Linked DNA regions of Homo sapiens: region 1 is linked to region 2. Evidence: fine-mapped expression QTL. Tissue or cell type: whole blood. Region 2 holds a variant in brackets; the other region holds the start of a gene. All regions are shown on one strand. Distances are between the middles of the regions.

Region 1 (8,104 bases), 180 kb after region 2:
GAGACAAAGTCTTGCTCTGTCGCCCAGGCTGGAGTGCAGTGGTGCTATCGTGGCTCACTGCAACCTCTGCCTCCTGGGTTCAAGCAATTCTCCTGTCTCAGCCTCTCGAGTAGCTGGGATTACAGGTGCCCGCCACCACACCCGGCTAATTTTTGTATTTTTAGTGGAGACGGGGGTTTCACCATGTTGGCCAGGCTGGTCTCGAACTCCTGACCTCAAGTGATCCGCCCGCCTCGGCCTCCCAAAGTGCTGGGATTACAGGCGTGAGCCACTGCTCCTGGCCGATTTTCCTCATACATTTTAACAGACATGGAACCATCTATCAGAACTTCTGAACTATTACTAATACAATCCCAGCCCAAGTTAAAAAAATAAATAAAACAACTTGACATCGTAGTAACTCGTTCAGTCTTATACCGCGTAATTTCCATTAGGATGTCCGATATACTAAAAATAGATCGGGGACTCCATTACTAATCTGAGGACCCCAAGATGGGAACCAGACCCGTTATTGCCCTCAACAGTTCACAGGTTAAGGGTCTCAGGAGGCAGTGGCTGAGCTGGTGTGAAAGGGAAGCAAAGAAAGTTCTATTCGTGGCCCTCCTCCCTTCAAGGCTCCCGTCGCCCCTTAGAGACCCTCTTTTCGCCTCAGGAACTCCCCTTCTCTTCCCATGAAACTTTCACTCTCTTGGCCGACCTCCCCGTCCCAATCTCAAGGAACCTCACTTCTTCCCTCACGGAATCCCGCGTCTCCTCGCAAAAACCCGCATCTCCACCACGGACCCTCCAAGTCTGCAGGGAACTCCCCAGCTCCCATGGAACCCTCGTCTCCTCCCGGAATCCCTTTTCCATTTTCAAAGAACCGCAATTCTTCCTTCACAGAACCTCCATCTCCTCACCCACCCCTCAGCTTCCCAAGGGAGCCCCCGACTCCCCCAGGGAGCCCCCACTCTTCTCCTCACTGACACCCCAGGCCCGCCCGGGCCGGGCCTCACCCCGCGGCTCCTCCACGGAGCGCCGGTGCAGCTCGCGGTAGCGCTGCAGCGAGGGGACGTGCGCGGAGCGGCTGACCTCGGGCGGCGGAGACCAACTCCGCGCCCGGCCTCCGGCTCCAGCTTCCTCCTGGCCCCGGCTCCCGCTGCCGCTCCGGACCCGCTCCTCAGGAAGCCCCATCACGTCAAGTTCCTAGAACCGCGGCCGCCTTTGCGGTCGCGGCGGGTGCCGGGACTGAGAAAACAGGCCGAACTAGAGGCGGGGCCTCCGTAGAGGGGCGGGGCCTGGTGAGTGGGGGAGTGGCTTAGTCTGGCGGGTGGGCGGTGCCAGAGGGGGCGGGGCCGTGTCTGGTTGGGGAGGGATCGAGGTTGGCAAGGACAGAAATACTATAAGGAAAAGTCGAGGGATAGGGGTGGAGCTGACTTGCCGGAAGGAGTGACGCCGTCGAGTGAAAGCAGAAGGGGCGGGGCCGGGTGTGACAAGGGAGAGGGTGGAACCGTGGAGTGCCAAGGGAGGGGCGGGGCCAGGCGGGACAGGAGAGGAGGTGGGCCCATGGAGTGATGGGGAGTAACCCGGCTGGTTGTGACAGGAGAGGAGGCAGAGCCATGGAGTGACCAGAGTGGGGTGGGGTCTTGGAGTGACAGATAAGGGGTTGGGTTAAGGCAAGGATCGAAAGGGAAAGGGATGGACTAAGGAGAGGAGTTGAGTAAGGTCCATCGCGGAGCCGCCCCGTGATCTGATTGCACAGTCCTGACTATCACCAGTTCCTTCCAGGTGACACCCTTCCCTCCAGGTCCCCCCTCTCTGAGCCACACCCACATTCTCGTCCTCCGGAAAAACTTCTCCCATGACCTTGAGGGCATGCTCTGGCGACAGCACCTCCTCTCTGCTCACCCTGGAACCAGCTCAGATTTTCTCCCTCTTATGAGGACATGTCTTCAATCTCCTTGCCTTCACAAATCTCCATCCAGATCTAAAGTACAAGACTCAATAAGTGAAGACTAGGAGACACCTTCAGGTTTTTTGTAATAAGCCCACCTCCTAATTGCACAAATGGCAAACCCAGGAAAGGGAAGGAACTGGTGCACAGTCAGAGAGCAAATAACGACCAAGTTAGGGCCAAAGCTAGGTTCTTTGACTCCAGATTTGGTTTTACTTCCTCGTCAGGCTTGAAGCTAAGGCTTGTAAAATATCAAAGTCTGTGCAAATAGGAAAAATCATTCACATTCTCTTTTTTTGTTGTTGTTTTTGTTTTGAGATGGAGTCTCTCGCTCTGTCGCCCAGGCTGGAGTGCAATGGCACAATCTCGGCTGACTGCAACCTCTGCCTCCTGGATTCAAGCAATTCTCCTGCCTCAGCCTCCCGAGTAGCTGGAATTACAGGTGCACACCACCACACCCAGCTAATTTTTGTATTTTTAGTAGAGATGGGATTTCACCATGTTGTCCAGGCTGGTCTTGAACTCCTGACCTCAGGTGATCTGCCCGCCTTGGGCTCCCAAAGTGCTAGGATTACAGGCGTGAGCCACCACACCTGGCCCACATTCTCTTCTTTCCTTCACAATCTCTTTACTCCACCAAGGGAAACCCCCACCACCACCACCACAACCTGGGCTTAATTACCTCTAGCTTCTCTCTAGCCCCTCCACCCCAGAAAGAAGTCAGGCAGGACCCTCCTCCATCTCTCACCTGCACTCACCACAAAGAAGTGCCCACCTCACCATCATTTCACAGACTGGCTGTCAAGGCAGGAAGGATTCTTAAATATCTAACTCCAAGAGTGATTCTGAGGCCTGAAGCGGGCAGCTCCCACCTCCTGAAGCCTACACAGGCCTTGTGACCCCATCTAGCCCAGCCTCCCTTCCCAGCTACTTCCCTGCACTTTGCCCAGCTGACTGTAAACCTTGCACACCCTAAGCTGAAAAAAAATCTCTCTATGGGAGACCGAGAGTCTGCCCAATCCCAAGGAGGGCGGGAATCTGAGGGCCCACTGAAGGAGTACAGACCTCTTGGGGTGGACATAGACCCCACCAAGGGGTCAGATACTTTCATAAAGGAGATATTCACTGCACCGAAGGGACACACACTTCACTGACAGTACATGGACTCCACTAAGGGAGCACAGATGTTGCTGGGGGTTCTCAGATCTGACTGAAGGGCCCTGGGCCCTGCTAATAGGACATGAATGGCTTTGAAGGGCACTTACCCTAGTGAGGAGACATGGATTTCCCCTAAGAGATACAGAGGATATAGACTTTACTAAGGAGACGTGGACCCTACCAGAGGACTCAAACTCCAGTGAGGAGCTGCCAACTACACTGTGGGAGTGGACATCACTGAGAAGGTGCAGACCTCATCAAGTGGGGAAGGGTCCCACCAGAGGGATTAGACCTCAGGGTAGTGTAATAGACCCTACAAACATCACTGAGGAGATAAGAACTCTCTGGGGTGGGGAAAGGCACAGACAATGGGTACACTTTTTGGTGATAGACTGTTACCCTCCCTGGGCACTCTTACCACACAGCTCTGAGTAGCCCTCTCCTTCCTATCCTCTCTCCCAAGTCCTACACCCAAACCCCAGAGCTGTTCCCGACACACTGCTTCCCCCTCCTGTCTATAGTTGCTACTGCAGCTGCTGTGTATATAGTAGATTTTTCAAGCACTTCAGGCCATCCCTGAGACTGGTCTGGGGTTGGGAAGAGAAAGGATGTGTGTATAGAGGCTTCACCAGCCCCCCTCTCTTCCTGTGGACTTCACAATGAAAGTTTGGAACAGAGACCTCGTAAAAGAAGGAACCTCCCTCATCCTTGGATATGGAGAAGTAGTACAAGCTGTAGTGTGGTTGGAATTTTGGAGTGGAGAGAGGATGGATGAGTTTGGAGGGAATGAATCTACCAGATTAAGGCAATGATGATGATGATGATGATGCCATTTATTGAGTAGGTGCCAAGCCCTATACTAATCGCTTTCCATTCTGTTACTTAATCCTCATGACAACCCTCTAAAATGGGTACTATTATTCTTTCCATTTCACAGATGGGGAAACTGATAGAGAGACTAATTGTCTTGCCCAAGATTACACAGTGTTTGAGCGGTGGCAGAATAGAACCCAGACATCCAGAATATGGAGACCTATTCCCCACCTTGCCCCACTCCTGCCCTACCATCACTACCACCACTCCTTCTTTCTCAAAGTGTCCTTTCCAGAACCACATCAAAAACTCTTAAAATGATGGTAAATATTCAGGTTCCAAGGACCTCATCCCAGCCTACTGAATCATGATCTCTGGAGTGGAATCTGGGGATCCGCTTTCAAAGATCCTAACACACACTAAAGTTTGAGAATGCGGTTGAAAGAGGAGTCAGAAGTGTCGGGGTGCGGGAAGGGATCTGAGGTCAGAGGAGGGATCTGTTGTCCAAAGAGGCGTCTGCAGTCAAAGAGGCCTGGAGATGAAGCATGGGCTGGGGTTTTCAAAAGGGTTTGGGGGTGAAGACAGAGTCTGAAGTCGAAAAAGAGGTCTAAGGTCGGAGGAGGAGTCTAAAATCGGAGGAGGAGGATCTCGGAATTCAAGGAGGGGTCTGGGGTCCGAGGAGTTTGGGGTCAGAGACAGGATCTGGGGTCGAGAGGGATTTGCGGTCAGTGAAAGGGTCTGGGGCCCGAAAAGGAAGCCTGGGATTTGAGGAGGACACTAGCTGTATTCAGGCTGGAAGGAGGAAGGGGTTTGGTCCCTGAGCTGCGTAAAGTGCAGAGCCACTGAAGTCTCGCTTGCCCCGCGCTCTCCCCTCGACCCTGCGCTGCCTTCCTGGCTGTCCATCTACACGCACCTGTGTGCCAGCTGCAGGCTGATAGCGCTGAGCAGACGGGGGCGAGTCAGACCGGGACACGGCCGAGGGCTGGGAGAGGCGCCCCCTCCCGGCTGTCGCGAAGATCAGGCCCCGCCCTCCGCCCTCCCACTCCCCCGCCGCAGCCACTTCCGGCAGGCGCTGCGCTGCTGGGGGGCGCGGGCGAGGATGGCGGCGGAGAACGAGGCCAGCCAGGAGAGCGCCCTGGGCGCCTACTCGCCAGTGGACTACATGAGCATCACCAGCTTCCCGCGGCTGCCCGAGGACGAGCCGGCGCCCGCGGCCCCGCTGAGGGGCCGCAAGGACGAGGACGCCTTTCTGGGAGACCCCGACACCGGTGAGGCCCGCTGACCCCGTCCCTGCCCTGCCTTGGGAAGTCCCCGGTCTTCCTTCTTCTGTGTCAAGCATCCACCTCCAGCTCCATCTCCTTAATTCATCCCCATCTTCTTGGATCTCTCCCTTCTTCTCCCTTGTCTCTGTTAATTATTTGGTGAGGAAGGGGGTGCATTTCTGCCTTGGAGGCGTAGGATGCGACAACGGAGAGGATGCTAGGGACTGCAGTAGAAGGGATTGGGCTTACCTTCTGGGAAGAACCAACTAACGATGAAGGAATGTTGAAGGGGAGATCCTAAGGAACCGCTGTGATCACCCAGAAGAGGGCTTTCTCTAGCCACAGAGGACAGGATAGGAGAAACCAAGTCAGAGACTGCAGCAAGAGGGATCCAATCTGTGCCTTAAGAGAAGTTCCCCACAGCCAGGGATTGTGAGAAGCAGAGGGTCTGGGAGAAGCGGAGAATCTCTTCATGTCTAGGGAGGGGTAAAGAGAATATGATTCCCCTCTGTTGGGTGTTGGGAGACGGAGGCATGGACTGCATGACCTCTCAAAAGTCCTTGGGGACTAGAACGCCTTCACTCTCCTGTGGATTACCCCACCCCTCCCTGAGCCATGGATCTGGCCGGGGTATTAGTAAGGTACTCTGCTCCCTAGGAAGCAGTCTCCAGAATTTTACTGTGTTCCCCTCAGCCCTCTGCTGGAATTGTGAGAAGTGGGGGTAAGAGAAGGAGGAGACAGGGATTGGAAGAGACCTGGGGGCAAAGAGCTCTCTGTGCATTCCTTCCCTGCTGCTCTTCCTCCTAGCCATGTGGCCCAGCTTCATCCTCCCCTCCATTCTTCATCCTTCATCCCCCATCCCTCTGTCCCTGCACGTCACTTCCTGGCATTAGAGCATCCTTCTACCTCACTCTCGCTTCCTCGCAGTGCCTGCACTTGAGCCTTGTCTCTTACCAGCCTGGCAGATGCTGCTTTTCCGGCTTGGCCCTTCCCTAGCTGCTCCCAGCCTGAAAGCCCCAAATTCTCTCCTCCTCTACACTTTCTGGTCATCTGGCCCTGACCAGCAGCCCTTGCCAACCTGACTGGACTGCACTCTGTATGGGGTGGGGGTGAGGAGATAATGAAGATGGAGTTTAGAGGTTTATGGGCGTCAAATGTCAGGGCTGCGGATCAAAACTTATTTTCCAAAGGGAGTGGAATCAGGAGGTAGCAGGGAGAGGAGTGGGAAGATGTGTCATGATGGATATCAGCCTGAAGCTAGGCCTTTTATTCAGTAGTCAGGAGTGAGACTTCTGGTCCTAATACAGCCCTGACTCACCAAGCGACAACAGGCACACCTACCCTGTCCTGGGCCTTAGTTTCCTCTTCCAGCTCAACAGAGAATGCCTGTCTCTCTTGACCTAGAGATTGGAACTGCCTGACATGTTTTCTTCTGGCCCTCTGTAAATGTCTTAGCATTTACCAAAATCTATGATTATTTATTTGTGCAATTATCTGATTACTCCCTGTCTGTAAGCCCCATGAGGGCAGGGATCATGATTGTTTTGTTCACTCTCCTTTCTCCAGCATCAAGACCTTATCCATAGGCCGGGCGCGGTGGCTCATGCCTGAGGTGGGTGGATCACTTGAGGTCAGGAGTTCAAGACCTGCCTGGCCAACATGGTGAAACCCCATCTCTACTAAAAATACAAAAATTAGCTGGGCATGGTGGTGGGTGCCTGTAATCCTAGCTACTCGGGAGGCTGAGGCAGGAGAATCACTCGAACTGGGGAGGCAGAGGTTACAGTGAGCCGAGATCACTCCACTGCACTCCAGCCTGGGTGACAGAGTGAGACTCAGTCTCAAAAAGAAACAAAAAACAAAAAACAAAACAAAATACACTGGCCGGTGTGGTGGCTCACACCTGTAATCCCAGCACTTTGGGATGCTGAGGCGGGTGGATCACCTGAGGTCAGGAGTTCAAAAACAGCCTGGCCAACATGACAAAACCCCATCTCTACTAAAAATACAAAAAAAAAAAATTAGCCAGGCCTGGTGGCAGGTGTCTGTAACCCCAGCTACTCAGGAGGCTGAGGCAGAGGTTGCAGTGAGCGAAGATCGCGCCATTGCACTCCAGCCTGGGCAACAGAGTGAGACTCTGTCTCAAAAAAACAAACAAACAACAACAACAAAAAAAACCCTCATCTCTATTTATTTATTGGGCACTCAATAATTGTTGAATGAATAAATGCATGAGAGAGAAGATCTCAGGATGAAAGAATGGTAGGAGAGAGGATGAAAGAATGGTAGGAGAGAGCAAGTTCCAAAACCTCAGGGAGTATTTTGGGAAGTTCAATACAGGCTCTGCCCTCACCCCTGTATGGAAATCCAGCAGAGATCCTAGTCATCTGAGCTTCTGGGAGTTTATACCTTATGCCAAATTTATGTGTCAGGTTTGTGTGTTGCCATCATTTCAGTGTAATCATTTGAATGCCATATCTCCCAATCCTACTTCCAAGCCCCAAGGCTTCCTCGGTTCACCTGGACCAGACTACAGGCTGACATGGCCTCCTGTGTTCTCAACCTGGTGGTACCATCTAGTGGCACAGCACCATCCTCTTAGCCAGGACCTTGGTTGTGCCCAGCTAGCCTCTAGCCTGCCATTCCCTAAACCCAAGTGCCAGGCACCCCACATCAGGCTCTGTGGGAAAGAGAGCTAGACAGTGATCATTCCAAGGTTGGGAAATACTTTCTTTCTTCTGAGCTCCAAGCCCTTGTGTTCCTTTCTCTCCCAGGCCTGTGTCTCCAGATGTCCTGCAAGTGCCTCATCTATAGCATGTTCTATTTTGAACTCATCATATCCCTTCCCCATGCACCTGCTCTTCCTCCACTGCCATTCTCCATTAATGACACTGCCAGTCACCCAGTCTCCCAATAATGAATGGCATGCTGGACTCCT
Region 2 (8,104 bases):
TCTGCTCTTTTTCCAGTGTCTTAAGGTAGAAGATTAGGTTATCGATTAGAAACAATTTTCTTTGGCCGGGTGCGGTGGCTCATGCCTGTAATCCCAGCACTTTGGGAGGTCAAGGTGGGCAGATCACCTGAGGTCAGGAGTTCAAGACCAGCCTGGCCAACATGGCAAAACCTCGTTTCTACTAAAAATACACAAAGTAGCCAGGAGTGGTGGCAGGCACCTGTAATCCCTGCTACTCTGAGGCTGAGGCAGGAGAATCGCTTGAACCCAGGAGGCGGAGGTTGCAGTGAGCCGAGATAGGGCTATTGCACTCCAGCCTGGGAGACAAAGCAAGACTCTGTCTCAAAAAAAAAAAAAAAAAAAAGAATTTTCTTTTAATATAGGCATTTACAGCTATAAATTTCCCTCTGAGCACTCCATTAGCTACATCATAAGTTTTGGTATTTTCATCCTTCTTGGATACTTTATACTTCCCCTTGTGGTTTCTTCTTTGGCCCATTATTATTTAGGATGGGTTTTTAAAATTATCCATATAATTCATGAATTTCCCAAATTTCGTTCTGATTTTAATTTCATTCCATTGTGGCCACACAACATACTGTATGTGATTTAAGTGCTTTTAAATTTATTGAGGCTTGTTCAGTGGCCTGAAATTTGATCTGTCCTGGAGAATGTTTCATGTGCACTTGAGTAGAATGTATACTCTGTTCTTGCTGCATGGAGTGTTCTGTAGATGTCTGTTAGAATATATGTGTTCGTTGTGTTCAAGTCTTCTATTTCTTTGCTCGTCTGCCTAGTTGTCTATTATTGAAAGCAGAGTTATTAACGTGTCCAACTTTTATTTTTAAATTATCTGTTTCCTTCATTTCTGCCAGCTTTTGTTTCATGTATTTTTGGGCTCTATTGTTAGGTACATACATATTTGTAGTTGTTATATCTTTCTAATGGATTGACCCTTTTATCAACTATCCTTTCTCTCCGTAGAATGAATTTTTAAATACATGCTTATTTTAAACAGTTTGTGCAAAATTGTATTAAAGTATGTAAAATAAAAAACACATGCATATAACCCCCAAACCTGTAGAAATCAGTGTTAACAATTTATGGTGTATCTTTTGAGTCCTTTTAAAATAAACTTACAAATGTTCTTTAAACAGAAGAATCATAGTAATAATGTTCTGCAGCTTTTCAGAAATTAAAGCCGCATTAGATCCCAGAGATTACCTAATCTAAAATACTTCTTTTCAAAAATGAGAAAGCTGAGGCCAGAGAAGGGCAAGTAGGTGGCCAAGCTGGGACTAGAACCTGGGTCTCCTGACTTGCTGCAGTCAGGAGCCTTACTGAACCTTAACTGCCTCCTGGAACAAAAGGGTCTTGTAATACTGTGACAGATACATGGGCCATGAATGGTTATGGCAAAATCATTTTATAAGTTATACTTTGAATTAATTTTGAAGATTTTATCTAATTTTTTTTATAGCTTCTTGTAGAAATTCTTATGAGGCCTACGATCTCTATCCGGGGACAGAAACTGAAAAGTAAGTATACCTATTAGCTACTGGTCCTTGTTTTCCAACCTGCCGATACGGTGGCAGTTCCCAGCAGCTGCCTTCTTCCTTCCCTTCCTAACTCTTAATAGTAAGGACATGTCTTACATTTAGCTACAGGTTGCTCTCTCCTCCCCCAGCTAAGCAGCTGTCTTTATTCATTCTGTACTGCGTAGAAATTCAGATCTGGGTTAAGAGAATGCATCTTTGTACTTTTGATAGTCCTGTGATCCAGCTTCTATGTTTCCTTGGGAAATTCTTCTTTCTCACATATAACTAGCTGAGAGAGTAAGATCACTCTGTTTTATTTTTTTTAAACTATTTTTTTTAGAAAGGTGATACATGCTCTTTGTAAAAAGTTCAGGCATTACCAGGGTGTGAATGGTAAAAAGTCAGAGTGTTTTGGTATGCACTATTTCTTAAGCTGGGTGGTAGATATATGGGTAATATTCTATTATTATTTTTTATAACTTACACGTTACAAATAATTCTTTTTAGGTATTCAATTTTTTTTTTTTTGAGACAGTCTCTCGCTCTGTTGCCCAGGCTGGAGTGCAGTGGCATGATCTTGGCTCACTGCAACCTCCGCCTCCTGAGCTCAAGTGATTTTCCTGCCTCACCCTCTCAAGTAGCTGGGATTACAGGCGCCCACCACCATACCCGGCTAATTTTTGTATTTTTTTTTTTAGTAGAGATGGGGTTTCACCATGTTGACCAGGCTGGTCTCGAACTCCTGACCTCAAGTGATCTGCCCACCTCAGCCTCCCAAGTGCTGGGATTACAGGCATGAGCCACCGCACCCAGCTTCGGTATTTAATTTAAAATAAAAAAGTGAATGCACTTTACTCTGGTGTTAAAAGCCAGAGATGACTTCAGTTAATGTTTGGTGAATGCCCTCCTACCAACTTTGCGTTTTTTTAATTTAAAAGATTTTTTTTTTACCCCAATACGACATACTGTATAAGGCCTCATTTGTGCATGCAGTAGTGGTTATTAAGAGGATTTATATTCATTTTTAATGTCTCAGCTGTGTATTCTAACTTGGTCTTTCATGTTCTCTATGTACCCTCATAGCAAGTAGCATATTGTAATTATTTGTTGGTGCACTTGTTTAGTCTCTCTTCTTCCCACTAGATTTATAGGTTCCATGAAGGCTGAGACTTTTTTTCCCTCACCACTGTATCTGCTCTAGAGTAGATGCTGAACAATACTTGATGAATGAGTGAATCCCAATTCCTTTTAAAAATGGAGGATCTAGAAATAGTGAGATATATAGTGAGACATGCAGAGCAGTGTTTCACCCTGCTCTGAAGTCGTTAAATAAATCAATCACAGAGCCCCAGTAGGTTGAAAGGTGGTGATAAGGGATGCAGAGCGTCTGCGTTGTCTCAGGATTATGAGACAACCCATCTAGTCAAGCTAGCTTGGCAGGGCTGCCCATTGGGATCTGAGAAGGAGACCTAGCATTTTAGCATTCCTAGCAGCTTAGGAGTGAATGGAAACAATTTTAAAAAATAGAAGCAAGTGCCAAATAAAGCACTTTGTCCATGGTTCATACTCAGTTTCATCATCTTTTGGTTTTGGGCTCATGAAAATTAAGTTTCGTTTTTATGCTACTTTCCTGTTCCTGCTCACAGGGAAGTAGTAGTTTCTTTATAAGAATTAGT[A/C]ATAGATCAGACATTAAGAGCCATTTGCCCAACACAGATAACAGCAACAAAAAAAGAAATGCTCAGTTAATGAGTCTGATAAAAATGGTATTTTTGTTTGCTGCAGTAGAACTTTCAATGGAAATTTATAACAAGAGCAATTGAGATGCTTATACTTTTAACTTTTAGCCAGGCGTGGTACACGCGCATGCAGTCCTAGCCACTCGGGAGGGTGAGGAGGGAAAATTGCTTGAGCCTAGGAGTTCGAGACTACAGTGAGCTGTGATTGTGCCCCTGAGTGACAGAGTAAGACCTCATTTAAAAAACCAAAACAAATGAACAAAAAAAAGATGCCTATACTTTAGATTCTAGTAGTTCTACTTTTGAAAATGTATCTTGAGGAACTAGTTTAATACAAACATGAAAAGGATACACATATATATTAAGTTGTTCATTTGTGGTCTACTTAAATAGCCAAAAAACACAAAAAACAAAAAAAACAAATCCTAGATATATCCTAAGCAAGACATTAAGGGAAAATGGCTTTATTAAATGATGGCACAACAACAGGTTGAAATTATGAAGACTGTGGAGCATAATAAGAAAACAGCTGCTGTATCAAACCAAAAGCAATATGCAAATGGGCTTGTAGGTTCTGATGGGCACTATGAAAACCTTTGGTAGACAGGGGCTGGAAGAAGTATATTAAAGGAAAAATAATCATCTTGGAGGGGATTATAACAGTTCTTATGCTGAAAAAAATGTGGTAACTGTTGTACTATCTTTTCATTGAGAAAAATAACCAGTCATTACCCTTTCACTTTCAGTAAGTGATGAAATGTCCAAGGACTGCTTGAGTATCCTGTATAATACCTGTGTCTGTGTAAGTACCCCTGCCACTGGGGCTCTGTTTATCTCCCCTACCAGGTCTGCAATGTTTAAGATGGGAATATTCGAGTAGAATGGCAGACATAAGAGCTGCTTTCAGACAGTGGGGGAATCGGGCTTATTTTATGTGTGCCTGAAAATCAGGACTAACTGGTAGAAATTACGGGGAGGCAGAATTTTGTAGCAGTTGTTAAGAGCCAGGACTGCTGCAGCAGGTAGTAAACTCCTTTGGCCTTAGAGCTGTCCAAGTAGAAACTGGACACTTGTCAAAAGGTGACAAGTGTTGGCAGACTGTGACCTTTAAGACTCATTTTAACTCCATTATGCCTATTTCTTCATTTTCCTTGTTAGAAAACAAAATGAGAACCAGAAGCCCCGCCCATATATTGAGCAGGACTCTACTAGGTTGACCACTGAGCCAGGAAGAATGGTGAATAAAGAAAGCAATCTGGTAGAAACAAAAGAGGATGGCACTTAGTGTTAGGACCTGATTTTGTGTTCTGGCCCTTGGCTTAGTACACCTCCCAAGCCGTAGTTTCTTACCAATAGAATGCAGTTAGCAGTTGTATTAACATCATAGATTTATTGTGAGAAATGAGATAGTAGATGTGAAAACACTTTGTAAAACAATATATAAATGTTAGTTTTTAAAAGATACAGTACCTGTCTTTTAGAAACTTATGATAAACTGTGTAAACTGTGAATCATAATACATGGCAGAATGAGACGAGCGCTATTATAAATGTGAACCCTGTATGCTGTGGAAATAAAAAAAAAAAAACATTTAGCTCCATTTCATTTCTTGCCTCATTCAAAATAAGATTTCTGACATCTTGTGGGTGTATGCAAAATCTACCAAGATCACGAACTTAGAAGCAGGTAAGAAAGAAGAAGATAAAGGTGGGGACATAACGTATAGCCAGGAATTGGGCTGATATAAAAATGAAGACCATAAAATCATCTGTATTACGGATGGGCACAAATTTGGCTTCAAGCTTCTTAGCAGCCAACACAAATAGGGGAATATGTTTGAACACTTACGTAATTCAGCATCTATAATAGTGCTGTGCAATTGAAATATAATGCAAGCCACTTGGGTTATTTTAAATTTCCTTGTAGCCACATTTTTTTAAAGAAAAAAGTAGGAAGAAGTGGTGAAGTTAATTTTAATGATAAATTCTGTTTAACACAGTGTATCAAGAATATTGTCATTCTAACATGTAATCAGTATAATTAATTATTAATGAGATATTTACTTGTTTTTCGTATTGAGCTCTCAAAATCCAATGTGTGTGTGTGTTTTGTTTTTCTTTCCTCTTGTTTGAACACCCAGAGCACATCTTAGTTTGGCCTGGCCACCTTTTAAGTGCTCGGTAGCCATGTATAGCCAATGACAGAGATAGGCACAGGGAGATCTATAAGATAAAATTTCAAATTGTTCAGGAAATGCACAGTTCTTGCAACTAAGGCCAATAAGAAATTGTCCTTATAGAAGAAGACAGTGTATAATATAATGACTCCATCTTTGGCAACTCCATATAGTCACTAGTTTTATGAGGCCGTTTTAAAATCATGATACCTAATGTTAATCAGTGACATTCCAATAAAACAGTTAAGTTAAAAAAATGAAATGTATGAAGAGAAGTTGATTAATGGGTACAAATATATGGGATGATAAATAAGACCTAGTGTTAGATAAATCAGTAAGGGTGACTTAGTTTATAATATTCTGTTCTGTTTTACATTTCAAAATAGCTAGAAGAGAATTTGAATGGTTCTTAGCATAAAGAAAAGACAAGTATTTAAGCTGATGGCTATCCCAAGTACATTGATTTGATTTTTATAAATTATACGAATGTATTAAATTATATGCTCCCTGAAATTATGTACCTTTATTATATATCAACTAAAAGTATTTTTAAATAAAATTTTTTAAAAAATTTGAGGAACATAGGGCGATATGGTTCAATTATGTGCTATCTGGCTGAATTCCATGTTAATGTAGAGAACCTGGGGCTCTCAGGGTTGCAAACACCAATGCCTCCAGGGATCAGGCAGAAAACAGGAAATGTTTGGAATTGCTGGTGTTGGAGTGGGGACTTGTGTAAACTGTGACTAAACTGGAGCAAGTATGTCCTGTCTAAAGATGTTTGAATTCAAAAGTTTAAAAAGTACTGTTGGCCGGGCACGGTGGCTATCACCTGTAATCCCAGCAATTTGGGAGGCTGAGGCGGGTGGATCACTTGAGGTCAGGAGTTCCAGACCAGCCTGGCCAACATGGTGAAACCCCGTCTGTACTAAAAACACAAAAATTAGCCAGGTGTGGTGGTACATGCCTATAGTCCCAGCTACTCAGGAGAGGCAAGAGAATCACTTGAACCCAGCAGGCAGAGGTTGCAGTGAGCTGAGATTGCACCACTGCACTCCAGCGTGGGTGACAGAGTGAGGGTCTCTCAAAAAATAAAAGATAAAAAAATAAACAGTACTGCTCACCAGAAAAAGCTTGGCCTACTGGATGCTAGTTTGTAGCTCCTCATTTAGATACTTGACAGATACTAGGTCAAGAGCTTATGATTAGGCTGGGCGCAGTGGCTCACACCTATAATCTCAACACTTTGATAGGCCGAGGCAGGAGAATTGTGTGTGTCCAGGAGTTCAAGACCAGCCTGGGCAACATAGAACCTGTCTCTACAAAAAATAAAAAACTGGCTGGACGTGGTGTTATATACCATAGTCCCAGCTCCTCAGGAGGCTGAGGTGGGAGGATTGCTTGAGCCTGAGAGGTTAAGGCTGCGGTGAGCCATGATTGTGCCAGTGTACTCACTCAGCCTGGGCTATAGAGTGAGACCCTGTCTCCAAAAAAAAAAAAAAACCAAAAAAAAACCTATGATGAATGTTACATGGAAAAAACTCTCCCCCGAAAAATGTAGTTGCATACAACCTTTTATATATTGTTTTAGTGCTTTTTGGCCTCAGTTAAGAACTTGTGATATAGAGGAAAGGAAGGATTGTGATGGCCTTTTGGGTGGCCACTGTTGACTTGGGAAGGTTTTCCAAGAGGAGTCATTTTAGTCAGTCTGTAAAAGGAGTAGCACTTTGATAAATTGAAGAGAGGAGAAAGGTGGGTAGTCAAGGGTAGCTAGTTAGAGCAGCAGGGTTGTGTATTTGACAGCCTGGAGATAGATTTTTAAGCTTTGAGAAAGTGTAAATTTAGTTCTCTTTTTGTTCTGTTTCTTTGGATCTTCCAGAACTTTTGCTTGTCAGTAAAACTAGAGTCAGTCCTGTTTCACATATCATAGCCAGTGTAGGTACTGTATGTAGTTCGGGAATAACAACCTTTTTTTTTTTTTTTTTTAATGTGTCAGTGCTACGACTGAAGAACCGAAATGTATTAATACAGATGGAGATTGCTTTCTTTAGTGTCCTATTTAATGTGATCGTCAAAGATTTATATACGTGGCACATCTTTATTGATGCCTTCACTTTGAAAATTAAATTTGCCAGGTGCGGTGGTGCACGCCTGTAGTCCCAGTGATTCAGGAGGCTGAGGTGGGGGGATCGCTTGAGCCCAGGTGATTGAGGCTGTAGTGAGCTATATTCGTACTTGTGAATAGTCATGGCCTCAGCCTGGGCAACAGAGTGAGACCCTGTCTCTAAAATTAAAAGAAAGAAAATTAAATTTGTTGCAACATATCTCATTTCACTGATTCTGAAATGCCTCCTAGCTTGGGGTTCCCATTTACCAAACTGTGTGTGTCTGCACTCTTGATTATACTTTTTAAGGAGAAGTCAAGTTTATCGCAGTAAACCTTGGAATTTTTTCAGCTTAGAGGCTAAAAAAAAGAAATATTAAAGTCACTAAGCTCTAGTTGCCTTAAGGCAGTAGGGGTGGGATATATATGTGTGTGTGTGTGTGTGTGTGTGTGTGTGTGTGTGTAAGCTATAGCAGTACTGCAGTTTCTTTCTTTTTAGAGATAGGGTTTCACTCTGTCCCCATGCTGGAATGCAGTGGTGAGACAGATT

What was found. PIP is the estimated chance that this variant, and not a neighbour inherited with it, causes the effect.
Region 1: GGT7 starts here. The variant in region 2 is fine-mapped to the expression of GGT7 in whole blood (TOPMed, PIP above 0.99).

What each region holds. Positions count from the first base shown.
Region 1 is chr20:34,869,715-34,877,818 of GRCh38, reverse strand. It overlaps GGT7 (gamma-glutamyltransferase 7), which reads left to right and starts at 4,963. Exons shown (of 15, transcript NM_178026.3): 1 at 4,963-5,172. The coding sequence starts at 5,004. ACSS2 (acyl-CoA synthetase short chain family member 2) reads right to left here and starts at 1,207. Exons shown (of 18, transcript NM_018677.4): 1 at 996-1,207. The coding sequence starts at 1,173. RefSeq lists silencers at 919-1,348, 1,429-1,568, 4,792-5,081 and enhancers at 1,839-1,888, 1,909-1,988.
Region 2 is chr20:35,050,948-35,059,051 of GRCh38, reverse strand. It overlaps TRPC4AP (transient receptor potential cation channel subfamily C member 4 associated protein), which reads left to right. Exons shown (of 19, transcript NM_015638.3): 4 at 1,481-1,538; 5 at 4,021-4,076. Among named protein-coding and RNA genes, the nearest start is that of TRPC4AP, 38 kb to the left of the region's middle. RefSeq lists an enhancer at 3,055-3,164. The variant A/C (reference allele first, on the strand shown) is at 3,215.